Homo sapiens: one gene and its partners. The protein of the gene in region 1 interacts with the protein of each later gene in a biochemical or structural test. Each region holds a gene or a part of one and is shown on either strand. Other genes may lie near its edges.

Region 1 (2,797 bases):
GGTGTAAAATGGAAGGGCGGACTGAGAACTTCACTTCTTGCATCATTTTAAGCTACTTAATAAGCTCCTGCTCTAAACACTGTGATATGGCTGTTTTGTAATGTGTCAAGACCCTCTAAAATTGATCCAAGTAATTTTCTCTTTTCACACATCAGAAACCTGTGAACATGTGGAATTAGTGGCACCTACAATGGGTGCAACGTGTGAAGTATAATGTAATTCGAGGACAGTAAAATAATCTTTCGCTACACACTTACCTGAAAAAAAAAAAGATATAAATACAAGGGGAAGAAAAATGTAGTTCTGCCTTCCCCAAATACACTACTAGGAAAAACAAAAGTTCCCAATTCAAAAACATGGGAAAAAACCCTCCAACCAAAATAGTATACACAAAATCCAAATCAAAATGGGGTTTAACGTTGGCACCTCTGGAAAAAGATGCCTTAGCTTCCAGCCACACAAAAACATGCCTTAGCTTCCAGCCACACACAACACACCAATAGAGTTTGCTTTTTATTATTATTATTGTTTTACAATAAAAACAAATAGCTATGCTCTCAGCAAAACAAATTAAAAAAAAAAATCACAGAAATTTACTAACAGCATTTCAAGGTAAGGCTTTTGAAAGATTTATTGAAATAAATTATCTTTGCCTAAAAATTTACCTATCACCTTTTTCAATTACTTTTCAACATTCTAAAAACTTTCCGTTATGTAAAATACATTTAAACTTTGCCAATAATTGTGGATAATACTGGATTCTTCCCAAAAGGACTACCACAAAACAAAGCTTTCAAAGAGTAAAAAAAAAAAAAAAAAAAAAAAAAAAAAAAGTAATCCAATGGGGCATAAAACTGAGGTCTGTAACCTATGACTTCATGGTTCAAATCCTTAAAGTTAAACATGTGAAGAATTTGAAGAGATTTGGGACCTGGGCCCTCTCCAAGGCAGGTAGGTTCACACCTTACCTTCTCTGCTGAATTAAACCAGGAATAACACAGCTAGGAAAACGCAGTGCTCCCAGGATAAAAGATACAAAAGTTCTTTTTTATTTCTTTAATAAAGCCCTTCAAGGTTTACTCTCCCATCTTGCAAGGCCCACATCTTGTTCAAGGACCAAACCCACAGGCTTTAGCACTGCCTAATTTACTTCACCAATGAATGAAAACCATAAACCAAAGCTTGCTGCCTAACCACTCCCCAGGTCCAGACGGGACAAGGAAATGCTGAGAGGGGAGGGGACCCATGGGGCACACTCATGAGATGCAGGAGCACCAGAGTTCACGGAAATCAAGCCGGCTTTGGACTGGAGGCTCGGAAAGTCAGTCCCAGATGTAGTGGGACAGAAAGGGGTGACTTCATCACACCCTATAGCCCTGGACTTTCCCCTCCTCTGCTCCAGGTATCGAACCAAGAGTTCCTTTTCCAAGATGCCCTGCTGGCTCAGGGGTGCATGAGCCCGTGGGTCTGGCCTCTGGCACAGTCTACATGCTTCCACAACAACGACAGCAGTTTGATAACAGATGTTACCCCACGACGTGGGGGCGGGCTCACACTGTGCGCCTCCCCCACACTCTTCCCACTGGGTGTGGTGCTCAGGACACCTGCATTTGTGGGACGTACGCATGAGGCAGGAGTAGAAGCTGCCTGCTGCAGGCAGGCGACTGCTCACTTCCTCCTGATCGTCCCCCACCCCAAGCAGTCCAGTCAACACCAGAAGAGATCATACCTACAGTTAAAATTTGCAGTGTTTCTAAGGGGAAGAGAAATGTCACATAGAAAGTATTACAAAGAAGGATTAAATTTATCAGCTGTCCAAACACTATAAGACCACATGCTTTATACAGCGGCAATGCAGTCAAGCCCGCTTTTCCATGGAGCGGGCAGAATTGGGACAGGCCTCCTCCAGTCAGTCGGGCACAGGGCGCAGGAGGCAGCTGAGGAAGGCAAGGGAGCGCTAGGAGGTCTGCTGCTTCTGAAGCCTCCGTTCCGCGGCGGCAGCCAGCATCCTTCGACGCAGGGTCACGGGGTCAGAGGACGCACCTTCCGAGGGGAGGAAGCTCTCTGAGGCCGCATCATCTTCAGAACTTTTGTTCAAGAAACGTCTAGAAAAAACAGAAGACTTTTTCTCTCTCATAGGAGAGATGGGGAGCTGTGGAACACAGCCAGAAGGTTGATTTCACATCTCCCCATGTCCAGGCACCTTCATGAAGCTGTCACTCAGCACCACCCAATGACCAAGACATCCAGCCCCCAACAGATGGGCGCAAATTCTCTCTGCACCAGGGAGGAACCCTTCAGTGCTGTTCCCTGCTGTCTCTTCCTGCCCATCCCCTCCACCCACAGACACAGCACAGAACTCCCACAATCACAGGGTCTGCCAGGGCCCAAACCCACTTGAGGAACACAGTGCTGGCCCTGTCCTTAAGAGCTGGAACAAAACCCCCTCTATCCACAGGACACACCTGCTGTAGCTGCCACCAACCATGGGTGTGTGACGCACAGATGCGCTGAGTGTGTGTACAATGCTCAGCTGAAAGGCAGAGTGGTCAACAGGGAGGACCTGGGAGACAGACGCCAGGGCCAGGCCAGTGCTAACCTCTCCAGCCTCCATTTCTTCAGCTGTATGTCAGCTGAATGGGTTAACAGTGCTCCCTCTTAGAGCTGTTAAAGTAATTCATATAAAGGGCTTAGATCAGGTTAGCACACAAGTGCTCTCTCGGCAAGCGTGGCCAAAGGGGTCCATGGGAGATGACTGACAGTACCAGCATCAGAGGTAGACCAGTGGGGCCCAGTG
Region 2 (4,632 bases), on another chromosome or scaffold:
TAGGCCTAAATGTGTAGGATTAGCGTCTATCTTTCTCTCCCACATTATCGCTTGGGACATTTCAAAGACATTTCAGGAGGTAATTTTTCTAATTTTTGATTATTTTGTTTTCAAAATAAAGGCAAATTTGGACATTGACTGATTTATTTTCCTCATACTTTTTAAAAAACAGCTTTTGATAATTCATGCACCAAAAAAACACCCTTCTAAGGTATACAATTCAGTGTTTTTTAGTATATTCATAAAGCTGTACAAGCAGCATCACTATCTAATTCTAGGACACTTTCATCACTCCAAAAAGAAATGCATACCAATTAACAGTCACTCACTATTCCCTCCATCAGTCCATAGCAGCCACTAACTTAATTTCCCTTTATATGGACCTGCTTATTCTAGGCATTTCATATAAATGGAATTACACAGTATGTGGCATTTTGTGTCTGGCTTCTTAGCATGTTTTCAAGGTTCATCCATGTTGTAGCAAGTATCAGGACTTCATTTTTATAGCCAAGTAATATTCTACTGTGTAGATATGGTGGTAACATGTTATTTACCCATTCAGTATTTGACAGAAGTTCAATAGTTTTGTATGCACTCATAAAAATAAATGTCTCCAGAAATATTAGCATACCATCAGAAGTGTCTGTCTGTGGAGTGTATCCTTCTGAAAGGTTGAAGGTCCCATTATCAGTCCAGGATACCTCTGAGACGTCTGTGTCAGACACAGATAACTCTTTGGCAGCAACCGTGAGGCTAATCTGTGTTAATATAAATAAATACCAGCGGCACATTTTAAACTGCTGAAGGGAATATTTTGAAAAATCCATATGAACCCCCAAAATGACAGAGTAATAAAAACCAAATGGATATTTTTATTTTGAAATCATTCAGTCATCTTACAGAAATATGAGGAGTTTATTAGGAAGATCATTCAGCTTTGTATGCATACATGCATTTACAGTCAAACCACACAGGAACAAATTGAAAACTAAACAAAAAATACCTTAGGACAAAGAGCTGAAAAGTCTAATTCACTGTCATCTTTGTGACTTTTTTCTTTGTCTGCTTCTGTTGAGGAAAAAATTTGGAAGCTTTCAGTTTCCTAGCCAACTCAGACATAGTGCATTTATTTCATTATGTATTCTTACCCCACATTTCTCATATTCTCCAAATACAAATATATATTTCTCATATTCTTAACTACAAATATAATTAAATGTTTGCACATAACAAGCTTCACATATTTGCAAAGGAAATGATCCACATTAGTGGCTCTCTTAATATTGTCCCTGAAACAGCAAAAGCATCCTCCCTGGGAACTTTTTAGAAATGCAGATTCTCAGGCCCTACCCTAGACCTACTGAATCAGAAACTCTGGGCTGGGGCCTAGCAATCTGTCCTTTAATAAGCCCTCCACGTGACTCCGATACATTCTAGTTTGAGAACCTATAAGGTCATAAGCCAAGTTAAAAAGTAAGAGATGATTATATTGGCTTTTCCTGTATTTTCTTTTTCTTTGTGATAGTCCAACCCAAAATAAAACTAAGTAAATCATAAGTAGCACAATAAAGAGTGTTGAAGCCTTTTCTTTCTCCCCTGACACTGTGGATTAAAAAGTCAATTTATTTAATTGTATATTTGAGAAAAGAAGGAAAGCCCAAATAGGAAAAGGATATATATAACTTTGAGGGAGATTAGCTTCTATAATAATATTTAGTAAAAAGCTAAAAGTATCCTCAAATGTATTAAAGAATTTCCTAAAAATAGCTCGCTAATGTCTCATTTCATGCATAGAATCTAAAATATAAACTTTACCTACCAGATCTCTCACGTTTCTTCTGATTAATATATTCTCCAATTCCAAAATCCAGTTTCAGCAGAACTGACTTAATTTTGCTGTAAATTTTTTGTCCAATATCATTACATTTAAACAATGGACACAAAAATGCACACAGTACTGAAAGAAGAAAGAGAGCAGAGGTAAAATGCCTTTCCTTTCAAAAGGCTACGTACATTTCAGTATTTCACAAAATACTACATTTCTTTACTGAAAAACTTAAGTTTTTTTAAGGGAAATGCCATTGTGAAATAAGTTTATAATTTCTATTCTTTTTCTGTAAGGTAAACATTTTCTGCCACCACCCACAAACACACACATGCATCCCACACTTACACAAGTTTATAATTTCTATTCTTTTTCTGTAAGGTAAACATTTTCTACCACCACCCACAAACACACACATGCATACCCACACTTACACAATGCTCACAGTCATTGTTTCCAGGTGCAGTTAGATCAACTCCCTCCTTTCAATCCTTTTATTCTCAAAATTTATAGAAAAATTACATGCCTTCCAGACAACAGTCCTGGTTTAACTGTGTTTATTCAATGCCATTTCACCATGGGAAAGTTATTAGCCTCTCATCAATAATATTAGGATAGTAACATTATTTCTTGGGGTTGTTGTGAAGCATAAATGAAATCAATGCAAACCATCTGAATAATGCCTTGCCCAAATTATTCTTTCATTCCCCAGTCCTCTTCTCCTTTACCTCCTAAACAATGTCATCATGAGGCTGATGTTATATATGACTTCTTTTGGGGAGAATGGATTTGAGCTCTGACCATTTGCCATTTGCATTATGCATTAAGAATACAAAAAGAAGCAAAGATTGCCACACTCTAAGTATTGTATTCCCAATATTTATTTCTTTGTTCGTTTTAGGAAGTGTCCCGTATTATATTTTAAAATAAGAGCTACAAACTCAAATGTCTCTAGAGGCCAAGAAATTGTATGTAAATTTTAAAGTCCATTGTAAGAAAAATTGGAAAATATGGGGGTATGTTAAGTGGAGAGTGCCTGCCCCATCGAAAGGTAGCAGTGCCAGATCATAGTTTTCAGGTGAAGAAAATCCATACTTTTTAATAACATTTTTGGGTGGTCATTGATGTATAATAAAATACATGTATTTAAAGTGTACAATTTGATAAATTTTGACATATGCATACAACTAAGAAGCCATCACCATAATCAAGATAGTGAACATGTCTACCAGTAGACATGAAGTTTTCTCATGGTTTTATTCAACCTTCCTTCCAGTCTCCTGCCTCTTCTCCCTGCCCCCACCCACCTCATCCCCAGGCAACCACTGACCTGCTTTGTCACTAAAGATTGTTTGAATTTTCTGGAATAATATATAAATGGAATCACACTTTTTCATCTGGTTTTGTCTACTCAGTCTAATTATTTTGAGATTTATCTTTAGTGTTGTATGTATCCATTTTTAGTGCTAAGTAGTAATCCATTATATGGATATACCACAGTTTGCTTACCCATTCCTCCAATTGATGGATGTATGGATTATATTCTGCTTTTGGCTACTACATATAAATCTGTTATGAACATTTATGTCTTTGTACTTTCATTTCTTTTGGGTAAGTACCTAGTTGTGGGATAGCTTTGTCATGTAGTAGTTTTTAAGAAACTGCCAAACTGTTATCCAAAGTGATTTTAACATTCTACCTACCCCGCAACAGTATGTGAGAATTCCACTTGCTCTGCATCCCTCCTAATACTTGATGTGGTCAGTATTTTTAATTTTAGCCATTCTGGTAGGGATGCAATGGTATTTCATTGTGGTTTTAATTATTTTTTTGAGCCAAAGAACACGCACGAAGGCAAAGGTGTTGGTGTGTTTTTGGGAGGTGGGGCATACAGCTTTATGTATACTTTTACTGACAAAATTTAACATAAAATTATTCACTTATAATTCTGCCTTTTGCAGCTATTCTTCCAATTTTAAAATAGAGACATGTCTCTAGGAAAATGGAGAAACTTTGTACAGCAGGAGATTAAAGAATAATCAACTTGTATTATAGTTAAGAACTCATCCCCCCTCTTCAAACTACAGGTCTGTTGACCGTAAGGTGATACCATATGCATCACAACACTTAGCCATATGTTCTACTATACTTACACAGTAGATAGCTGAGTATAACCCCAGGAATGTAACTTCCCAAGATCGTAAAAAATGTGCACACACTACAGACCAGGAGACAAAACTGGAAATAATAGAAATAACATGGGATAGTTAAGCATAACACCAAGATATTTCGGAGCACAGGATACACACACAATTGTAAATCTATAGTGACCGGTATAAGTGACCTATCTGGTTATTACAGATTTTTTCCAAAGAGCATTATTTTGCACTAAGGGCTGACTAATGACTGCTGCATTCAACCAGTCTTAGTCCATTTCAACACTTGGTAATAATTATTTTGAGGACACAGGAGCTAATTTCTGGCACAGAGAGTGACAACTCCCATTACTCATGCCTGTGGCTATATTACTGCCAGGTGCAAGAGAACAGAAAACTATTATGTTCCCAGAAACTTCTTTTACTTCGCTCATTTAAGGAAATTAATGCGGCCTGATAACTACATCTGAAAGTTCAAACTACCACTATAAGCCCACTGAAATTCATAAAAACACAGCAAAACAAGTTACAGAAATTAGAGGTATCTACACAAATCTAACGTAATTTACACAAATCTAATGTAATTTATAGCTGCTAAGCTGACAGGATAAATTTATGGCCATCACTATCCTCTTTCCTAACCATATATAC
Region 3 (4,632 bases), on another chromosome or scaffold:
AAAGGTTTCTAGTTTGAAGGTAGAAACCTTCCAACAAAGAAAACCACAACCAGATGCTGCAGGTGCTGTGGGAAGAGCTGGCAGGAGGGGGCAGAGCTACTGGGCTAGGCTCCTAGAGGCCGAGTTCTTTAGGCTGGGCACTGGGCGGGCAGACCTGGGAGGAAATCCAGGCAGAGGTGGCAGCCTGAGCAAAGGCGTGGAAGGGAAGAGGAGCCCAGGCAGTTCAGAAATGGTGGATAATTAGGCAAGACAGGCTGGGGACAGGTGTGCGAGTGGTTGGGAAGGGGAGGGGCACCACACGGGGTAGAACCTAGGGCCTGGGCCCAGCGGGCAGTGTGAGCTCTCAGCAGGGTCATGACATAGGACGCCCCCTCTCTCTGATGGACCTTGAGGTGTGGGCTGAAAGCAAGGCCAGAGGCAAGTAAGCTGGACTGGTGACGTGCTGACCCAAGAGGTGCACAGGCACATAAAGGAAGGGCTGGCAAAAAGAGGCAGGAAAACCCAGGAGACACTGGGCCCCCGGGAGAAGACCGAGAAGGAACTGATGGTAGTGATGGTGTTTGCCATGTGTAAGGCCCTTGTTCAGTCTTCCCAGAACAGTCAGGTAGGTACTATCATTATCCCCTTTTATCTATGGGGAAACTAAGGCCCACAGGTTAAGTAACAGCACACAAGTGGTGAGCACACAAGACCTCACAGCACACAAGTGGTGATGCCAGGATTCAAACCAAGGCTGCTGGCTTAAGTCCAGGGATTCAACCATCAAAGCAGAATTTAGCTTGTTAGTTCAGACAAATATTCCAATAAAAATCACACTTAGTGTTAGGAAGTAACGCAGATTCCATTTGAGATCTCCCTAAAAATTCTAATAAAGCAAATCAAGTTAAAAGCTTGGGCAGGAAGCTACAGAGAACCTCTGAGAGTAGCATGGAGGTACAGTAAGGGTGGGCACTCCCTCCTATCACCAAGGGTGACTCTCACACTGGCAGTAAAGGGGCCAGGACCTCTGTCCCGGTCCACCTCTCAGCTGCACAGCCATGGAGCTGACATACAGCTGGTCCACAGTAAACTGGACTGGGCTCAGCCAAGGGTCTGAGATTGTTGCAAGTGAAAGAGACTCCAATGTCCCTCAGTCCACTGACTCTCAAACTGCATTTTGTGACTTAGAGGCTCCCAGTGCCCTGGGGCTCCCAGTCCCTCTGTACCCCCTCACTTTCTCCAAAAAAAGCAGAGAACCTCATTTTATGAATTAGAGGACTTCCTATAAGATTTAGACAGAAAGAGTTTCTCCCATCACTTAAAAGATTTGAACAACACTGATCTGAGCTACACCTCAATGACCCAGCCCCTGAGTCTCTTCTGGACACCTGTGCCAAGGGTCACCCCTGGTGTCTGGCTCCTGGGTCAGCATGACTTGAAAGGAAGACCTTTTTAGGGAGCCTGTTCTCTCCTCTGTAATGACAGGGTCTTCGTGAGAACTGTGAACTCCATAGCTCTGTTGACCTACTGGTTGAGCTGAGGCCTCCACTGGGTATAGCCACAGCCAGTGCTGGCTCAGGGGCTACCTCCACCTTGTGGTTGGAATCGGATAGCTTAGGTTGTCACAGACACTACAGTACTTCTGATGCACAGACACTGTAGATATCCCCAATTAAAGAAGAGGACATTGAGGTTCAGAGAGGTCAAGTTGCTACTCTGGAGTCAGGCTGGGCAAAGAGCCCGAGGTGAGTCACACCACAGCCAGCACCTGTTCTCTGCTTGCTGCCACCAGAGGCCCCCAAAACCAAGCATGAACCTGTCCTCCTGGCCAACCCCAGTCTCCTGCCTCACACAGGAAGAATTCACACCAGAAACACTCTTTAAGTCTGGAAGGCAATGACTGCATCCTTGATTGGGTTGTCCATGATAGGGATTTTCTGTGCCTGTGTAGTATGGGGCTAGGGCATGGGTTTCCAGGTTGCTCTCATGGGATAAGGGGTCAGAGAAAAGGGAGGAAGAATGTGGCCACTCTTAGAACCCCTGTGGGCCTATCTCACTCCTGGTAAGAGGCAGGAGCCCAGCAAGAGGAGTGGCTTCTGGATGGAAGACAATAGCTCAGTTTTTGACATGCTGAGGATGCATTGGTGCACTGGAGATTAGAAACGGGGGTCTGGGCCGGGCATGGTGGTTCACGCCTATAATCCCATAACTTTGGGAGGCCGAGGCAGGCAGGTCACCTGAGGTCAGGAGTTCAAGACCAGCCTGCCCAACATGGCGGAACCCCATCTCTACTAAAAATACAAAAAATTAGCCGGGCGTGGTGGCGGGTGCCTGTAATCCCAGCTACTCGGGAGGCTGAGGCAGGAGGATCACTTGAACCTGGGAGGCAGAGGTTGCAGTGAGCCAAGATTGCGCCACTGCACTCCAGCCTGGGCGCTAAGAGCAAAACTCTGTCTCAAAAAATAAATAAATAAATAAATAAAAGAAAAGAAATGGGGGTCTGGAGCTCAGGAAAGATGTTTGGTGAGGGGATGAGGAACCTGCTCACAGCGCCCTCTTGTGAGCTGACCAATTCTTCCTTTAGGAAAAAAATCTAGTGAGCCCAGCCAATGGCATCAGCTGCCCTGGCACGGTACAAAGCACTTGATACTTGTACCTTCACTTAATCCTGACAGAATACTGAGAACAGTTGGGGGGTGGGTGGAGGTGGTGATCAGGAAGGGAAAGGGAACCCCCTTCACAGAGGAGGAACCTGAAGCACCCAGGGCAGTGATGAAGCTGAGGTTCAGGGGGCCCTGGCCTCGCCCTAGGTACCTGTGACCCAGGTTCTCCCAGCCCAGCGCATGCCCTCCACGGACAATTCACAACCAGATGCTGACAAAGGGCACTGGTGTCTGGATGTACTGAGGAGCCCATGCTGACTCTTGGTGTCCATATGTACATTATCTAAGTCCTTAAGTCACTCAGAAGATACTTACTGAGTTGGTCCAGGGCCGAGGGTGGCATAATTACTGTGGAAAGAACATTTAAGAAATATTAAAAAATAAAAATAAAAAGGACAGACCAAAGGCAAGATGCAGTTTCTTTATATCTAACAAAAAGCCTTAAACTGTTTTTAGGGTAGCCAGAATGTCCCAGTGATCTTTCATGAAGAATCTTACTTGATGTAATTTATTTTGGGAACTGAATGGTTATCAGCCATAAACCTAACCATAATTAGCACCCCACCCCAACAGAGCAAGTCAGGGATAAATCCCAGCACCATTTTCACAGTAACACTAGCTTCTGACTCCCACATGCAAAGTAAGTACTGTTGAAGGCTACAGCATTGCAGACTTAGGGCAGGAAAAGTTACTATTCAAATAAAAACAAGCACATACTCTTCCCTCCTTTCTCCACATCTGACCTGTCATTAGGCCCTGCTAGCATGGACACAGAGAAGCAGCGGTACTGTGTGGAGAAGCGGTTTTGGAAGACCCTGGGAATAGGGTGGTCGAACATGTTGAAAGAGAACTAGAAGGAGGAAAGAGAAACAAGTATTAAAACAAAGGTACATTTCTTCATGTCAAAAGCCAAAACATGTCAGAGTAATTAATGCTACTAAACATTGTCAGAGAACACAATGTACTGAAATCTTCAATGTAATCTTACTAAATACAAAACAGGCCATGCCAAGCCTGTCCTGAACCTTTTTCAGGGCTATGCTCCCATCTTCATCCTCAGGATCAAGGCCCAACCTCTTGCATACCTCAGAGACTTGTACTGACAGCCCCACAGACTCCTGCCTGGGCTAGTTCCTCTGCCTTGAACACTTTTCCTATTATCATTAATCTAAACAATATTTGTTAATTGAAACATCTCTTTATTGAGTGCCTACTGTCTGCCAGGCTCTGATATGAGCACAAGGGAAGCACCACTCCAGTGATGTCTGTCCACTAACAAAATAGATACCACCCCTGTCCTGGTGAAAATGACACTCAAAGCAAGAGAGATATACACTCCAAGCAACGGACACACACACATGTGTGTCTGGCAGTTCTGAAGACAAGCAGCAGGGTAAGTAGACACAGGGCTCCTGGGAATGCTATTTTAAATAGGTGGTTAGGAAGGGACTCTGCACAAAGACCTGAATGCTATGAGAGGGAGCCAGGCAAAAAAGAGGGAAAGACATTCCAGGCAGCAGGAAGAACAGGTACCCAGTGGTTGCACCCCTTCCCCTGGGTTCCAATTACCATCCTTTCCTTTCCCCAGGAAGCCTCTCTTGCTCTGCTGAGGGTCAGGTCTAGTGCCTCTCCAGCGTGCTCTCACAGCACAAAGTAGGTACACGTTACACTATGTTATGATGCTTTCTTACAGCAACAAGCAAAGCTAAAACATGATGCCATTAAAAAGATAAGATCCTAGATCTTAAACTGTAGACTAAGATGAGGCTTAGCAAACATGTATCAATTTGAAGGTTTTCTCAAAGTACAGTATTCCTCCCACCCCCCACCCCCATATCCACAGGGGATACATTCCAACATCCCCAGTGGACGCCTGAAACCACAGATAATACTGAAATCTATACATACTATGTTTTTTCTTATACATATCTACAATTTTCTTATACATATCTACAATAAAGTTTAATTTATAGGCTGGGTGCGGTGGCTC
Region 4 (4,632 bases), about 52 Mb from region 1:
CAAGGGCAGACCGGGGACCGTGGAGACATTTGAGATGATTTTAGGGGTTGCCCCCATGGACCATTCAATCACCCGATGAGAAAGCTTTCTTTTCACATCTCTGTCAATTTTGTTGATTATGTCAAGGAGAAAGAGTCACTGGGTGGTAATATATGCATTTTTAACACCTAACACTGTCCATTTTTCTTAAGGGAACTTTCAGCATGTTCTGCAGCAGCGCTCAGCTTGAATTTAATATTTGCTTTGTTTTCACTATATCTGTTTTACTCTTCATAGCTTTATTGAGATGTAGTTCATGTACCACACAACTCATCCATTGTAAACATGATTTGATGATTTTTAGTTAAATTATAGAATTGTGCAGTCGTCTGGCCAGGCGCGGTGGCTCACGCCTATAATCCCATCACTTTGGGAGGCCAAGGCGGGCGGATCACAAGGTCAGGAGATGGAGACCATCCTGGCTAACACGGGGAAACCCCGTCTCTACTAAAAATACAAAAAAATTTAGCCGGGCGTGATGGCAGGCGTCTATAGTCCCAGCTACGCGGGAGGCTGAGGCAGGCTGAATTGCTTGAAGCTGAGAGGTGGAGGCTGCAGTGAGCCGAGATTGCGCCACTGCACTCCAGCCTGGGTGACAGAGCGAGACTCCGTCTCAAAAAAAAAGGCTGGGCGCGGTGGTTCACGCCTGTAATCCCAGCACTTTGGGAGGCTGAGGCAGGTGGATCACAAGGTCAGGAGATCAAGACCATCCTGGCTAACACCGTGAAACCCCATCTCTACCAAAAATACAAAAAATTAGCTGGGTGTGGTGGCGGGCACCTGTAGTCCCAGCTACTCAGGAAGCTGAGGCAGGAGAATGGTGTGAACCCAGGAGGCGGAGGTTGCAGTGAGCCGAGACTGCGCCACTGCACTCCAGCCTAGGTGTCAGAGTGAGACTCCGTCTCAAAAAAAAAAAAAAAAAAGAATTGTGGGTGGGTGCGGTGGCTCACGCCTGTAATCCCAGCACTTTGGGAGGCCGAGGCAGGCGGATCACGAGGTCAGGAGATCGAGACCATCCTGGCTAACACGGTGAAACCCCATGTCTACTAAAAATACAAAAAATTAGCCAGGTGTGGTGGCAGGCGCTTGTAGTCCCAGCCACTCGGGAGGCTGAGGCAGGAGAATGGCATGAACCCGGGAGGTGAAGCTTGCAGTGAGCCGAGATCACGCCATTGCACTCCAGCTGGGCGATAGAGTGTGACTCTGTCTCCAAAAAAAAAAAAAAAAAAGGAGGGGACATTGAAGCAACAACAACAAAAAAAAGAATTGTGCAGTCATCACCACAATTGCAGACATTTCCCTTGTAAAAGTTTCCTTCCATCTGTTTGCAGAGTCCCTACCCCAACCCCCACCCTCAGCCCATCAGCGATCTGCTTTCTTTTTTCTTTGAGATGGAGTGTTGCTCTGTCGCCCAGGTTGCAATGCAGTGGCATGATCTCGGCTCAGTGCAACGTCCGCCTCCTGGGTTCAAGCAATTCTCCTGTTTCAGCCTCCTGAGTAGCTTGGATTACAGGTGCGCACCACCACGCCCGGCTAATTTTTAAATTTTTGGTACAGATGAGGTTTCACCATATTGGCCAGTCTGGTCTCGAGCTCCTGACCTCAGGTGATCTGCCTGCCTTGGCCTCCCAAAGTGCTAGGATTACAGGTGTGAGCCACTATGCCCAGCCTTTTCTGTTTTTTTTTGAGACAGTCTCGCTCTGTTGCCCTGGAGTGCAGTGGTGCAATCTTGGCTTACTGCAACCTCTGCCTCCTGGTTTCAAGTGATTCTCCTGCCTCAGCCTCCCAAGTAGCTGGGATTATAGGCACTGGCCACTATGCCAGGCTAATTTTTGTATTTTTAGTAGACACGGGGTTTCACTATGTTGGGAAGGCTGGTTTCGAACTCCCGACCTCAGGTGATCTGCCCACCTCAGCCTCCAAAGTGCTGGGATTACAGGGGTGAGCCACTGCACCTGGCCTGCTTTCTGTTCGTATGTGTGTGTGTGTGTGTGTGTGTGTGTGTGTGTGTGTGTGTGAAAAGTGTCTATTTGAGTCTTTTGTCCAATTTTCAAAAACTGGATTGTTTATCTTACGGAGTTGTAACAAAGAGTTCTTTATGTGTTCTGGATAGGATTCTCCTGTCAGCCATGTGATTTGCAAATATTTTCTCCCAGTCTGGCTTGTCTTTTAATTTTCTTAATGGTGTTTCTTTTGAAGAGCAAAAGTTTTGAATTTTGACGAAGTCTCATTTACTGCTTTTTAAGTGGATACTGCTTTTGGAGTTATGTTTAAGAAATCTTGGGCCCAGGCATGGTGGCTCACGCCTGTAATCCCAGCACTTTGGGAGGCCAAGGTGGGCGGATCATGAGGTAAAGAGATTGAGACCATCCTGGCCAACATGGTGAAACCCCATCTCTACTAAAAATACAAAAATTAGCTGGGCGTGGTGGCACACACCTGTAGTCCCAGCTGCTCAGGAGGCTGAGGCAGGAGAATTGTTTGAACCCGGGAGGCGGGGGTTGCAGTGAGCCTAGATCGCGCCACTGCACTCCAGCCTGGTGAAAGAGCGAGACACCGTCTCAAAAAAAAAAAAAAAATCATACAGGCGGCTGGGTGTGGTGGTTCATGCCTGTCATCTCAGCATTTTGGGAGGCTGAGGTGGGCGGATCACCTGAGGTCAGGAGTTCGAGACCAGCCTGGCCAACAAGGTGAAACCTCGTCTCTACTAAAAATACAAAAATGAGCTGGACGCAATGGCGCACGCCCGTAATCCCAGCTACTCAGGAGGCTGAGTCAGGAGAATTGCTTGAACCTGGGAGGTGGAGTTGGGTTGCAGTGAGCCAAGATCATGCCACTGCACTGCAGCCTGGGCAAACAGTGAGACACCATCTCAAAAAAAAAAAAAAAAAAAAAGCGCAGGTGCAGTGGCTCGCGCCTGTAATCCTAGCACTTTGGGAGACTGAGATGGGTGGATTGCCTGAGCTCAGGAGTTTGAGACCAGCCTGGGCAACATGGTGAAACTCCATGTCTCCTAAAATACAAAAAATTAGTTGGGTGTGGCAGCATGTGCCTGTAGTCCCAGCTAATTGGGAGGCCGAGGCAGAAGAATCGCTGGAACCCGGAGCGCGGCAGAGGTTGCAGTGAGCCGAGATTATGCCACTGCACTCCAGCCTGAGCGACAGAGTGAGACGCCGTCTCAAAAAAAAAAAAACAAATAGAAAGAAAAGAAATCTTTGCCTAGGTCAAGGTCACAAAGATTTTCTCCTATTTTTTTCTAGCATTTTGTTGTTGTTGTTGTTGTTGGTTTTTTTTGAGATGGAGTCTCCCTCTGTCACCCAGGCTGGAGTGTAGTGGCATGATCTTAGCTCACTGCAGCCTCTGCCCGGGTTCCAGCGATTCTTCTACCTCAGCCTACTGAGTAGCTGAGATTACAGGTGCGAGCCACCACGCCCGGCTAATTTTTGGATTTTTTAGTAGAGACGGGGTTTTCACCATATTGGCCAGGCTGATCTCAAACTGACCTTGTGATCTGCCTGCCTTGGCCTCCCAGATTGCTGGGATTACAGGCGTGAGCCGCTGTGCCCGGCCTTTTCTAGAAGTTTTATAGTTTTAGCTCTTACATTTAGGTCTTTGATCCATTTAGAGTTAATTCTTTTTTTTTTTTTTTTTTTTAATTTTGAGATAGGGTCTTACTCTGTCATTCAGGCTAGAGTATAGCGGCATGATGTCACTCTAGCCTTGACTTCCTGGCTCAGGTGATTCTCCCACCTCAGCCTCCCAAGTAGCTGGGTTTTCCCAGCTATGTATGTGTACCACTATGCCCAGCAAAGTTTTTGTATTTTTTTTGTAGAGACAGGGTTTCACCGTGTTGTCCAGGCTGGCCTCAAAGTCCTGGACTCAAGCAATCTGCCCACCTTGGCCTTCCAGAGTGCTGGGATTACAGGTGTGAGCCGCTGTAGCTGACCAAATTAATTTGTTTCACTTATGGCTTGAGATAAAGATCTAAACCCCCCTTTTTTGTGGATGGAATTCAATTATTTTAGTATCATTTGTTGTAGAGACTATCATCTTCCCATCAAATTGCCTTTGCACCTTTGTCAAAAATTAGTTGACCTAAGCCAGGCATTGTGGCTGGATAACAAAGCAAGACCATGTCTCTTAAAAATCAAAACAACAGCGACAAGAACCCCACCAGTTAACCATGAATGTGAGGGTTTATTTTGGGACTCTCCATTCTGTTCCATTGATTTATGTGTGTCCCAGAAGTTCTCAACTGGGGCATTTTTGCCCTCTCAAGGGACATTTGGCCATGTCTGGAGACATTTGTGATTGTCACAGCTGGGGGCATCTGTTGGGTAGAGGCCACAGGACAGTCCCCCACAATTAAGAATAAATCGGCCCAGAATATCCATAGTGCTTAGACTGAGAAATCCTGGTCTGTTCTTAGACCAGCAGCACACTGGCTTGTTTACAGTAGTTTGATAGTAAGTTGTGAAATCAGGTAGCATAAGTTCTCCAACTTTGTTCTCTTTCAAAATTGTTTTGGTTATGCTAAGTTCTTTGCATTTCCATATACATTTTATAATTAGCCTGTCAATTATTTCTACAAAA
Region 5 (4,632 bases), on another chromosome or scaffold:
ATATCCTCTTTATATGTGCATATACAGAATAAGTTCCTGTCAATAAATCTGCTAGAGCAACAGACATAACCATTTATTTTGGTAGATACTGCCAAATGCCTACAAAAATGTTTGCTCAATTTATACTTCCTCCTAAAAAGTAGATGAATCCTGTCTTCTCTCCATACTCTCACCATTTCATGTATTATATATTCACCAATCTGAAAACTAATTTTTATTTGCATTATGAGAAGTCAAGCACCTTTTCACGTTTTAAAAACCTGAGCATTTCCTTTATTCATTTGTTTTTCTGGATTTACATTTTTTTTTTCCCCCCCGAGATAGGATCTTGCTCTGATGCCCAGGCTGGAGTGCAGTGGCATGATCCTAGCTCACTACAACCTCCACCTCCTGGACTCAGGTGATTCTCCCACCTCAGCCTCCCAAGTAGCTGGGACTACCAGCATGCACCACCACACCTGGCTAATTTTTATATTTTTTGTAGATACAGGGTCTCCTGATGTTGCCCAGGCTGGTCTCAAATTCCTGAGCTCAAGCAATCCACCTGTCCTGGCCTCCCAAAGTGCTGGGATTACAGGCATGAGCCATCGCACCTGGCTGCATTTCCTCATACATTATGAAATTTCTCTTTCTCATCATTGCAAGCATTTTCTGATGTCATTAGACTTTCATGGTGTTTTTGCCATATTTTGACATACAAAAGTTTAATTAAATGTAGGCATATGTATCCATGATGTGTCATGTTTAGAAAGTCTTTTCGCTCCAAGAATGTAAGTGTTCATGGTTTTATTTTAGCACTTTCAAGGTGCATCCAAGGAATGAGGAAGAGATCCAACTGTTTTTCTAAATAGTCACCCAGTTTTCCCAACCCCATTTACAGAGTAACCCACATTTTTTCCAATTATTTGAAAAACTACTTTCATTGAACGTTTATACTCTAGTCTCTTTTACATGTAGGTCTATTTTAACACCATTCTGTTTGGAATTGGTTCCTATGCCAATATCAAGTTATTTTAATTTCTATTTTCTTTTTTTTTTTTTTTTTTGAGACAAGGTCTCAGTCTGTTGCTCAGGCTGGAGCGCAGTGTTTTGACCACAGCTCACTGTAACCTCAAATTTCTGGGTTCAAGCAATTCTCCACTCAGCCTCCCAAGTGGCTAGGACTACAGGCATGTACCATCACACCTGGTAATTTTGTTTGTTTGTTTTTTGAGACGGGCTCTTCCTATGTTGTCCAGACTGCTCTCAAACTACCAGCCTCAAATGATGCTCCCACCTCAGCCTCCCAAAGTGCTGAAATTATAGGCATGAGCCACTGGGCCTAGCCTAGTTTCTATTCCTTTTATAACATATTTTAATAGCTGGTAAAGTTAAACAGCTAAATAATATCTCCCCCTTTTTTTCTTCAACAATTGTCACAATTTTCTTGGTTAGTCTCAATATTTTATTTTTCTAAATGAATTAGAACCATTCTTTTATTATATCCATGTGATATTGATATAATTCCCAGCCAAGAAGTTTTTCATAGCTTTTAGAGTTGTCTATAGAGCTATCTCTTTCTACCTTTTTATACTTAACCACAAAAGCTGAGTATCTTACTGCCTACAATATTGAAAATTGAGCTTCGGCCGGGAGTAGTGGCTCATGCCTGTAATCCCAGCACTTTGGGAGGCCGAGGTGGGCAGATCACCTGAGGTCGGGAGTTCGAGACCAGGCTGACCAAGGTGGAGAAACCTTGTCTCTACTAAAAACACAAAATTAGCCGGGCGTGGTGGCACATGCCTGTAATCCCAGCTACTCGGGAGGCTGAGGCAGGAGAATCGCTTGAATCCAGGAGGCAGAGGTTGCAGTGAGCCGAGATCACAACACTGCACTCCAGCCTGGGCAACAAGAGCGAAACTATGTCTTAACAAAAAAGAAAATTGAGCTTCTTGGGCTTTCCAAGCATACAACCCTAGCTGTAAATAAACTTTTGTATCTTATTTCATTCTTGTCTAATTCACTGGCTGGCACCCCCACCAGAACAATGCTAAATAGTGATTGAAGCAGATGGCCTTCCTAAACTTTTGGAAATGGCAGCAAAATGCTGGCTTTTGGTGTGAGAGATATGTGTCTATCTCATTGCACACTAGCATGTACCAAGCACAAAAGACATGGCCCCTGAATTCCTCAGAGTAGTGGGGAAGGCTGTCAAAGGAAGAAAGGGTTGGCACAAGGGAGGGGACATGTGGACTTGTTACAAAGGCCCCAAGAATTGCAAGAGCACAATAACTGAATGGGTACTGCTAACAATTCAAGTGTGGCTGGAATGGAGGACGTCAGTCACGGGGACTGGCCACATACAGACTGGCCAGTTCCATTCTCCAAGTACAGGAATGTAACCCTCAGAGCTTAATTCCTTGTAGAGGGAAATGCAATGTGCATACCAAAAAAGTGACTTTCCAAGAAACGTGTATTAAACCAGAAAAATAAAATAGTTTAACATTTGGTTTGATTCATTCACAACTTTATCACAGAAACAGGATAGTTTAGTGGAAAGGGAACTGGAGATGACTTGAGAAGACCTGGGTTTAAGTTTTTGCTTATAAGTCACCACTTCCGAGCCTCAATTTCCATAGTTAATTTTTTTAAAGAAATCAATAAATTAATGTGCTACTCAGCTTATTTACACGCACTGATTCAGGAGACGGATTTCATAGATGAGGAAACAGGATGAGAAAAGGTTAAGTATCAGCCAGTAAGTGGTGAAGCTAGAATTTTATCCCAGACAGTCTGACTCCAGAGTTTGTGATACTAAGCCCCTATTTTTACAATCCCTCTCACAAATGGCGTCAGTATTATGAGGTACAATTACAATTAGTGTAAGTGTTCACTACTACAGACACTTGTGTAATCCTGAAATAGACTCAGAGTAAACCTACTAATTAATTCTCTGTGCTTAAGAAAAGGACTGGGAGTAAAGACCAGAAGCAAACCCTCTAGGTAGCCCTGGACCCTTGGAAAAGTATGGACGTCAAATTGGCTTCATCATCTACCCAATGACATTATCCTATGACTTCTGCCTTCCTTATCTTACAGGATTTGTAAAAGGTTGGAATTAAGAAAGTGAATTAAAAAGATACTATGCAAAAAGAATTAATATGTGTGGGTGTGTTAATTGTATTATCACAATCTTTTCGGAAACACCCGCTAACCAGTTTTTATAAATTCATATTTCAACTACCCCCATATTCCTATAAGTTACTCAAGGCCTGGTTTTGGAAAAGAAACCTTGTTTTTGTCTGACTACATTTTCTCTAATGCTGATGACATAAGACTATTTTTAGTCACTGTTTGCACCTGTTCTTTGGAAATCAGTGTCTGTCAAAATATCTCACTTCTTTTCCCTGTTCATTAAGCCTACCCTTGAGTTATACTTGCTTTCATTGATCTAAAAGACTTAATATTATTTTTGTGTTACTTTAAAATTATAATCTGAAAACACCAGAAGACAGCTTATCTCTTTAGAAGGACACAGTGTAACATATTTCGGAAATCCCCATTGTAAGTATCCAACTAAATCCCATTTTTTCCTCGACCTGATATGTAAACAGTAAGGAGAAGGAACTGGCTTTACGTTCAGTGCCAGGAGTGAAGAGGCCCATTTTCAACCCTGGAAAGCCTAAGAGGCAGCCAACTGCAGCACAAAGAGCCACGACTTGCAGACAGAGGACTGCCTGCCTCACACTTACTGAGAGGACTCGTGGGGGAGTATCTCATTTTAAGTCCACAGCAACCTCAAGGCCAGGCCCATAATGATCCCAGTTTTTTCAGGAGGAAAGCTGGGCCCTAATTAGAGTTCCTCACTTAACAAGGACATGTAGCCCATGTGCTCACTGCTATATACACCCTTAAAGAAGACATAAGACATTGTTCCTCAGTTATTAGTCCAACAACTTCAGAGTGTAGGTTGCAGCCATCCTTTAGCTAAAATCTTCTAAACAATCTGCTACTGAAATAATTTGCCATCCAGAATCTAGTGTTTTTTTTTTTAAAGTATGAAAAGTGAGGATTTGTCTGAAATAATAAGGATCACTTGATTCGGACTTAAGTATATATCAGTCACCAAGCAAGAAAGATGATGAGCACCTGTGTGACAAATGCTAGTTTAGTAAACTGTGGCCTTTTTTGCTGGGTGGGGAGACACAACGGGTAGGCAAGAAAAGGCCCCTTCCATTCATTTAAACAAATGAAAGGCACTTAATCTTTAAAAAGAGCAATTAGAAGCCATCAAATCTACTCCTAGATATATAGGCAACAGAAATTACTATTTCTCCTCACCAAGAAGTACATATGTTCACCAAGACATGTATTAGAATGTTCATAGCAGCACCATTCATAATAGCCAAACTGGAAACTGCCCAAAAGGTCCATTAATAGCTGAATGAGTAAATAAATTGTGGTATGGTCCCATAATGAGCAACCTATAACCACATGCAACAATATGGGTGACTCTCATAATGTTGATAAAAGCAGGTAGACACAAAAGAGAACATACTTCATAATTCCACCTATAAAAAGCATAAAAACTGGCAACAACAATACATGGTATTAAAAATCAAGAGCATAGTCACCCTTAGAGAGGACAGTGAC
Region 6 (4,632 bases), on another chromosome or scaffold:
GGAAAGTAAGGTGGTTGTTAGGAAGCTTCTGCCACAGTCCAGGTGAGAAAGGATGAGGGCCCGAGCCTTAGCAGTGCAAGGGAGAGAGGAGGATATACCAGAATTTGGTGACTGATGGGATATGATGCTAAAAGAGACAGTGAGATAGCCATGTTCATGGCAGCACTATTCACAGGAGCCAAAAGGTGGAAGCAACCCAGTGTCCCTGACAGATGACTGGATAAACAAGATGCGGTATATACACACAATGGGATATTATCCTGCCTTACAAAGGAAGAAAATTGACACAACAACATGGATTAACCTTGAGGACATTATGCCAAGTGAAATGAATCAGTCAAAAAGGACAAATATTGCATGATTCCACTTGTATAAAGTACCTAGAGTGGCCAAATCTTAGAGACAAAAAGTTGAATGGTGGTTGTCAGAGGCTGAGAAAAGGGGAGAACAGGGAGTCATTGTTTAAAGGGTACAGAGTTTCTGTTTTGCAAGATGAAAAGAATTCTGAAGACAGACAGTGGTGATAACTGCAAAACAGTGTGAATGTACTCCAATGCCACTGAACTGTACATTTTAAAATGGTTAAGATGGTAAAGTTTATGTTATATGTATTTTATCACAACTTAAAAAATAAAAAGAGAGAGAGGGAGGTAGAATGGATGATACCATACACCTCTCAATCTGGGGCACTAAAATGGATGGCCGCTCCTTTAACTGAGCTCCAGTCCATAGGGAGAGGAATGCAGGGGAGGAAAAAGAGAATTCAGAGTTGCACAGATGTCCAGATCCAAAATGAGCAGAGAACATGAACTTTTCCAAAAAGTCTTTCTGACAGGATCAGCATCATCTCTCACATTCCAAAGCTCTAAAAATGGTACAACTTTAAAGGTAATGAACTACTGTCCAAAAGGGACAGCAAGTGACTTCTTGATTATGATTTTAGAAAAGCAGGATTTTAGGGTACACATGGCAAATGACACAAAGACATCCATTTCACTCCTTTCTGAAACCCCAATCAAAGGACAGCAAAGGGATTTTTTCAAGACATAAGCTATAGCACTAAAGTCTGGAAAGCTGGACGGCAGGTAAATGAATGCTAAAAGACTAAGATGGCAACAGAGCTGAATCCTAGGCCAGCAGCAGGGAAAGCCAAGATCCAACCTGATCTTCACCCCAGAATGCCCAAAAGACTCCAGAACTGGCAATTCAAGATAACTCTGGAAGATGGGGTGAAGTAGGAGCTAAAATAAAGAGAAAGGTTTTCTATGTAGCCGTCAGAGCCCCAAACCTCACCTCCACTCCAAGAGGCCCCTCCCTCTCCTGGCAAAGAACTAGAGAGTGATTCTCTAAAGCAGACAAAAACAAAGGTTTCAGCGCTGGGGAAGAATGAGCTTAGTTAAGAATAGAGGCACCATCACGAACATGGGGACTAAGAGAATGTATGTGTATCAGTCCAGATTTGGTCAGAAAATAGATGCTATTCAGGTATTACAGGCAGGAAGAGATTTGATACAGGAAATTAAAAGCTTAAAAAATCATGGAAAGGGCATGAGAGCCACAGTCAGAGAAATCACTGCCTATGTTCAGGAACTCAGGATGTACAAGCGTCACAAGAAACTGCACAGATGACGTCAGAATCCCCACCACTGAGGTAACTGTGTCCCAGAAGGACACTCAGATGCTGCTAGGAAAACCTCACATCGACCAGGTGCCACAGTTGCAATAGCAAAGTGGCTTCTCCTTCTCTTTTGCCTTCTAAATCTCTTACTGGAAAAATCAGTATCAGAATCTTGCCACCAAGGGACTCTGGGAAATGCAATGTCCAGGAGCCAGCCCCTGCAATGATGGGAGAAGCTTAGCAAAGCAGGGACACAGCTGAGAACCTACAGGCAATATCCAGCTGGTATCGAATACCCAGATGCTGAGACCACCTTCACCCTCCACTCCCACTCAGTTCCCTAAATACTGGTAGACAGGCCTGTATTTTCCAGGCAAGAGATTAGAATAGTCTCCTACCTGGTAGCCAAAGGAAGAAAAAAAAATCACACTAACATTTAAGCTTCCCCAAAGAAACAGCCCAGCCAGGTCACCCTACAATGAAACTCACAGTTCAGAGAATAAAAAAAAAAAAATCCTATCTATGAAATAGTAAATTCCCAGCTCAAGTAGCTCTAATTTTTTCAAAAAGTGTCAATCAAACTCTCTAAATTTTAATTTGCTTCAAAAAGAATGTGCATGCAACATATGACATCTATGGTTGAGCTAAAATTAAGATAATAATTTAATGTGAACCCATAGGCTACATTTCAGGTGAGGTAAGTGACTGGAATAAGTGGTTATATCTTCTTGCCTAAACTCTAGAACTTTGGTTTCCAAAGTAAGGCCTGGTAACCCTCTGACACCCCAGAGTCTTTAAGTAATTTGGGAGGTCAAAACTATTTTCATAACATGAAGTTACTTGCCTTTCTCTCTCTCATTCTCTCATAGCACACAGTGGCATTTTCCCAAGGCTACGTGACATGCAATGACATCATTTCAAAAGCCAATAGAATGTAATTGTTCAAATTGTTTTAAATTTTTCTCAGTTTTAACTTCTAATATGGTAAATAGCAACAGAAATCACACAAAAGCTTTTTGCGGTTCTCAAAAATAGTTAAAGAGTATAAAGAGGTCAAAAAGCTTGAGAATCACTGCTCGAGAACAACTTTTCAGCTAGTTGCTTTTGGAAGGAAGCTTTTGACATGTGAAACTAATAAGATTTACTTTAAGTTTATATCTTCAAAGTGGAAAAAAGTCTGTCTGCTCTGAAATTTTGCTTTACTACCTTGTATCAGTTTATCCATCAGGAGGAAGAGTTTTCCACAGAGATCCTAAATTAACTTTTTTTTCTCCCTACAAGTAAACATTATGATGGGAAGTCTCATTGACTGCAAGGCAACGTGCATAGTACAATGGTAAAATGCAGAGAATCTACAGGGACTCAAACAAATACTTGTACACCAACAACTGAAGCAGCTTTATTCACAACAGTCAAAAGGTAGAAACAACCCGATGTCCATTAACAGGTGAATGGACAAATAAAATGTAATACATGTACATATATATGATGGAATATTATTCAGCCTTAAGAAGGAAGGAAATTCTGATGCATGCTACAACACTGAACCTTGATAACATTATGCTAAATGAAATAAGCCAGACACGAAAGGACAAATACTGTGTGATTCCACTTATATAAAGTGCCTAGAATAAGCAAATTCATAGAGACAGAAAGTTGAATGGACATTACAAGGGGCTAGGAGAAGGGAGAAGTGGGGGTTTATTGTCAAATGGATACAGAGTTTCAGTTTGGAAGGATGAAAAACTGGAGATCGACAGTAGTGATATTCACACAACAATGCATAGTGATAGTTACACAACAATGCGAATGTAATTTAATGCCACTGAATTGTACAATTAAAACGAGTTAAAATGTTTCCATGCGAATGTAATTTAATGCCACTGAATTGTACAATTAAATCGAGTTAAAATGTTTTGTTTGTTTGTTTTTTGAGACAGAGTCTCGCTCTGTCGCCCAGGCTGGAGTGGAATAGCGGGATCTTGGCTCACTGCAACCTCTGCCTCCCAGGTTCAAGCGATTCTCCCTGCCTCAGCCTCCTGAGTAGCTGGGACTACAGGCGCCCGCTACCCAGCCCGGCTAATTTTTGTATTTTTAGTAGAGACGGGGTTTCACCATGTTGGCCAGGCTGGTCTCGAACTCCTGACCTCATAAGGTGATCCACCCACCTCAGCCTCCCAAAGTGCTGGGATTACAGGTGTGAGCCACCGCGCCCAGCCAAAATGGTTTTTTAAAAACAGATTCTAGAGTCAGACAATTCAGATTCACATCCCAGCTCTCCTACTTACTCTCTGGGTGATCTTTGTACTTGAGTTTCCTGATCTGCAAAATGGTAATAGTATATAACATAGGGTTGTTGTGATGATTAAATGAGTTCATGTAGGTATAATAATATATGCAATAATTAGAAGGCTTGGAATGATGCATGGCACCTAGTAAGTGCCCTATCACTCGGTCTCAAACTTTGGCATGTCTCAGAATCATGCAAAGAGCTTATTAACACACAGACTGCTACACCCCCACCCCCAGATCTTCTGAAACAGAATTAGCAGTTCCCAAGACATGCTAGTGCTGCTGGTTCAGGGAGCACGCTTTGAAAACTGCTCTATATACATGTGAGATGTCATTATTATTACTGGCAATGCCTGAGAGAATACCAGGCACACCACTAAATACTTGTGGAAGAAAGGACAGAAAGACAGAGGATTCACTGAGCCCCTAACATGAAGTGTTCCCACAAGTAGATGGAGATCTCAAAGTCTTTCCTGGTGGATATCTAAACCAGCCACTCCCACCTGATGGCCCCTGTCCATCAGAGTTTCCAAAGACTCCCAGGAAGACAAAGAACCAACAGTGACATCTCAATATCACCGAGCCATCTCAGAGCTTTCAAAAATGGGAAAAAAGCTCCTTCTTAAAAAACAGTCCCAATGCGAGAAGGGAAGAAGAGGTGGGAGTAAGGGGCAACCATTTATGCTGAGTATCATATCCCCTCCGGCCACCTTTTTGGTTCA
Region 7 (3,761 bases), on another chromosome or scaffold:
TCCTTTCAACGGCTGGCCAGCCAATCTTTTCCTCACAGTCATGTTGCCTAATTAGGCCATTAACTTTACAGTTTTTAGTTTACTACCTGTGTAAGAAAAGCATCTTGCTAAGGGAAATCTAGTTTGTTTACTCGTTCTCTTGGAGTTACTGATATTAAATAGTTTTATATGTATTTGCATTACACATTTAAGAACGTCTTGTTCTTAAAACAGATCAGCAACAAGGAAATCTTTTTGTGACAGGGTTTTGGTCTGTCACCCAGGCTGCTGGAGTGATGACACGATTTTGGTTTACTGCAGCCTCCACCTCCTGGGCTCAAGTGATCCTCCTACCTCAGCCTCCCAAGTAGCTGGGCCTACAGGCACACACCACCATACGCAGCTAATTTTTTTGGTATTTTTTGTAGAGACGTGGTTTTGCCATGTTCCCAGGCTAAGGAAATCTAATCTTTACAACTTTGCCTTCTGAAATCTTACATATACTAACTTATAATTTGCTTTCCTGTTTTGCTTCACTGAGATGTTCTAGAGACGGGAATTAAAACTTGTTTTTTTCTTCCTTAGAGTGCAAAAGCAGTGCCTTACAAACTTAAGCAGGCTTCAGATTATCTGAGATGTTTAAAAGGCAGATTCTGGGACCCATCCCTGATTCAGGAATAGCAGGTACAACATTTTCAGAAACATTGCCTTTAAGGAAGCGGGTATGTCACACACAATTTTAATCTCACAGAAACATAAAATGTGCTAACCTGAATATTTAAAACATATGTTTTATTATTTACATGTTTGCCCCAAGTTATCACCTTACAGTGCTGTTCCATAAGCCAATCTGGAAAAAGTGAGACTTGATTTTGATTGTTTCCTAACAAACAACTGATCTTTGTTTTGTGTGACTCTTGGCTAATTCTATGTTTTCCTTTCTCTATTTTTAAGCTGACCATGGAGATATATTGCCATCAAAGTTTCTTTGAAATTTTGTGTGGGGTGTACAAAGAACAACAGGAGGCCAGCACTTATTAACAAGTGTAACTCTTTATTAAGATGGAATTGTTCTTATTAAAGAAATAGATGAAAATGGTTAAGTACAATTAAATGGCTCCAAAAGTCTTACAATGAAAACAACAGTCCTGCCAGTTGTTCTTTCCAGAGGCAAATACTTTTCATTCTCTTAGTTTTTCCTTCCGTTAGTTACCTTCATGGGTTTTTCCAAATTATTGTTTTTTTTTAGTTTTTCAAGTGAATGCATATATTAATACATAAAATTTTAAAAAGGCTTTTCAGTTTATAATGCATCCTAACAGTCCCCTGCCCCATCCCTCCTAATTCTCCAGAGCAATGACTTTTAACTCTTTTAGCAATGTCTTCTGTTTTTTTCCTCACATAACTTAGTCATTTCATTATTATATATTATATAGTGATTTCTGGATATGACAGATGAGGATTTAGCTCTTACACCATCACAATCTTCACTTTTCCTCCCATATTGTCCCAGAGTAGTTACCATATTTAGGGGCTAAGCAGTCACATCATTATGACTGTGTACATACTGCTCCTTGTTGAGAAAAACAGTGTATTATGCTCTTCCTATCCTGTACTTCTTTCTGCCCTAGAATGATTGCCTAACCAACCCTTTCCCCTTGTTTTTTTTTTTTTTTTTTTTACTTTTGCTTTATCTTCAATGAACTTCTTTCCAAATGCCCCAAATCTGGCAATAAGTTATTATTTTTAAGAGAAGGGATCTCACTAAGGTGGCCAGGCTGGTCTGGAACTCTTGGGCTCAAGTCGTCCTGCTGCTGAGCCTCCTGAGTAGCTGGGACTACAGGCATGGGCCATTCCACCCAGCTAACCGATTAATATTTTTACTGTTCCTTTTTAAAGCTAGCTCCATAGCTGGAATATTGCCTGTGTTGGATCCTATTTGCTGGATTCATGTCATTCTCTGGTTTGTGTACTCCTTCATTTTGCTGGAGTATTTTCTCCAACAGCTTCCCTAAAAAGGGCACATGGAGGTAACCCCTGAGTCTTTGCTTGTCTAAAAATGTATTATTTTACCTTCACCCTTGATTATTTGGGTGAATATAGATTTATCAGTTGAAAATAACTTTCTAGAATTATGAAGGCATGGTTCCATTGTTTTCAGATTCCTTTTCGAGACAAGGTCTCTTCTGTCACCCCGGCTGGAGTGCAGTGGCACAATCACGACTCACTGCAGCCTTGAACTCGTGGGCTCAATTAATTCTTCCATCTCAGCTTCCTGACTAGATGGGAATACAGGTGTGCGCCACAATGCCCAGCTAATTTTTGTGTTTTTTGTAGAGATGGGGCTTTGCCATGTTGCCCAAGCTGGTCTCAAGTGATCTGCCTGCCTTAGCCTCCCAAAGCGCTGGGATTACAGGTGTGAGCCACTGTGCCTGGCTGGTTTTTCTTTTATTTTCTCTCTACTTCATTCATTTCTCAAAGGCATCTGAAACTCCCTGGGCCCAAAACCAAAGTCAAACTCCATCAGAATATCCTGCTACTTATAACTTTAAAATATATCTTAAATCACAATTTCTTACTACATGCAACCCTTTGGTTCAAGCAACCATCATCCCTCACTTGAACTTATAATTGGTTTTCCTGCTTCTGTATTTTTTTAAATTATAAAATACTTCAAATAAACCATGTGTGGCCTTATACTTTTTACTACATAAAAAGAATGAAGATGTGCCGGGTGTGGTGGCTCAAGCCGGTAATCCCAGCACTTTGGGAGGCTGAGGTGGGTGAATCGCTTGCGGTCACGAGTTCGAGACTAGCCTGACCAACATGGTGAAACCCCATCTCTACTAAAAATACAAAATACAAAAATTAGCCGGGCGTGGTGGCGCGCACCTGGTCCTAGCTACTTGGGAGCCTGAGGCAGGAGAATCGCTTGAATCTGGGAAGGCGGAGGTTGCAGTAAGCCGAGGTCACACCATTGCATGCTAGCCTGGGCAACAAGAGCGAAACGCTGTCTAAAAAAAAAAGAACTTACATACTTAAACATCGAATTGCTTTAAGTGTTTGGCATTCACTGTTCCCGTGCATGCCAGCAGCTTCTTACTGCAAACACCTGAGACTTGCTATAGAGCAGCTGGACTATGTTCCGCCCACACACAGGACAGGGAGCTGACAACCAAGGAGGGGGGCGGGATCAATACTCCAGCTTTCCCCCCTCCATTTCCCTGTATCTCAGCAGTATGGAGCTTGTTATCAATGAGAACCTGCTCGCTGACTTTAAATTGCTTTTCTTACCTTCTCAGTTCAGTTTCTCCGTACCTCAATTGATGATTTCTGGTATGACCTAGCAAATACACTGCTTTCACTGAAATTTCAGTCTTGCAATCTGCTTTGGGTTCCCCAATCTAAGACAGAAACATACTCATTTTCCCATCACTGGACTTCCAGGTTGTTTTCAATTTTTCACTGTTACAAACAAGGTGGCAACATTTATCTACAAACCTCTGGATATACACGTAGGAAGCTTTTGGTATTTCCACTAGTGAAACTGCTCAGTTGAAGGGTATGTGGATCTTCATCTTTAATAAATATTACCAACATGTGAAAAGCCCGACAATGTCAAGGACTGGCAAGAGTGCCACATGTGATGGGTGTGGAATGGCAGCTCACTGTAGCAGGTGCTGGGGACTCAGTTGGGGTCTTGGAGAAGCACTTAGTTATAGCAAGAATGTCTCATAAATGGTATCTGATAGAGACAAGAGTAGTGGGGAATAAAAACTAGT

What was found.
Region 2: of the proteins of AMFR (region 1) and RETREG1, one has a biochemical effect on the other in vitro, tested with the Homo sapiens proteins (one study listed by BioGRID).
Region 3: the proteins of AMFR (region 1) and UFD1 form a complex in vitro, tested with the Homo sapiens proteins (one study listed by BioGRID).
Region 4: the proteins of AMFR (region 1) and MGRN1 form a complex in vitro, tested with the Homo sapiens proteins (one study listed by BioGRID).
Region 5: the proteins of AMFR (region 1) and DERL1 form a complex in vitro, tested with the Homo sapiens proteins (one study listed by BioGRID).
Region 6: the proteins of AMFR (region 1) and USP13 form a complex in vitro, tested with the Homo sapiens proteins (one study listed by BioGRID).
Region 7: of the proteins of AMFR (region 1) and DHFR, one has a biochemical effect on the other in vitro, tested with the Homo sapiens proteins (one study listed by BioGRID).

What each region holds. Positions count from the first base shown.
Region 1 is NC_000016.10:56,360,952-56,363,748, forward strand, and holds the end of AMFR (E3 ubiquitin-protein ligase AMFR), read right to left. Parts: intron 2,106-2,797; coding exon 1,958-2,105; 3' UTR 501-1,957; downstream 1-500. UniProt on the Homo sapiens protein: E3 ubiquitin-protein ligase that mediates the polyubiquitination of lysine and cysteine residues on target proteins, such as CD3D, CYP3A4, CFTR, INSIG1, SOAT2/ACAT2 and APOB for proteasomal degradation.
Region 2 is NC_000005.10:16,477,031-16,481,662, forward strand, and holds part of RETREG1 (reticulophagy regulator 1), read right to left. Parts: intron 4,064-4,632; coding exon 3,979-4,063; intron 1,958-3,978; coding exon 1,820-1,957; intron 1,069-1,819; coding exon 1,004-1,068; intron 759-1,003; coding exon 632-758; intron 1-631. UniProt on the Homo sapiens protein: Endoplasmic reticulum (ER)-anchored autophagy regulator which mediates ER delivery into lysosomes through sequestration into autophagosomes.
Region 3 is NC_000022.11:19,472,111-19,476,742, forward strand, and holds part of UFD1 (ubiquitin recognition factor in ER-associated degradation protein 1), read right to left. Parts: intron 3,494-4,632; exon of another isoform or gene 3,493-3,493; coding exon 3,360-3,492; intron 2,991-3,359; coding exon 2,958-2,990; intron 1-2,957. UniProt on the Homo sapiens protein: Essential component of the ubiquitin-dependent proteolytic pathway which degrades ubiquitin fusion proteins.
Region 4 is NC_000016.10:4,627,136-4,631,767, forward strand, and holds part of MGRN1 (E3 ubiquitin-protein ligase MGRN1), read left to right. Parts: intron 1-4,632. UniProt on the Homo sapiens protein: E3 ubiquitin-protein ligase. Mediates monoubiquitination at multiple sites of TSG101 in the presence of UBE2D1, but not of UBE2G1, nor UBE2H. Plays a role in the regulation of endosome-to-lysosome trafficking.
Region 5 is NC_000008.11:123,031,836-123,036,467, forward strand, and holds part of DERL1 (derlin-1), read right to left. Parts: intron 1-4,632. UniProt on the Homo sapiens protein: Functional component of endoplasmic reticulum-associated degradation (ERAD) for misfolded lumenal proteins. Forms homotetramers which encircle a large channel traversing the endoplasmic reticulum (ER) membrane.
Region 6 is NC_000003.12:179,658,962-179,663,593, reverse strand, and holds part of USP13 (ubiquitin carboxyl-terminal hydrolase 13), read right to left. Parts: intron 1-4,632. UniProt on the Homo sapiens protein: Deubiquitinase that mediates deubiquitination of target proteins such as BECN1, MITF, SKP2 and USP10 and is involved in various processes such as autophagy, endoplasmic reticulum-associated degradation (ERAD), cell cycle progression or DNA damage response.
Region 7 is NC_000005.10:80,625,215-80,628,975, forward strand, and holds the end of DHFR (dihydrofolate reductase), read right to left. Parts: 3' UTR 1,012-3,761; downstream 1-1,011.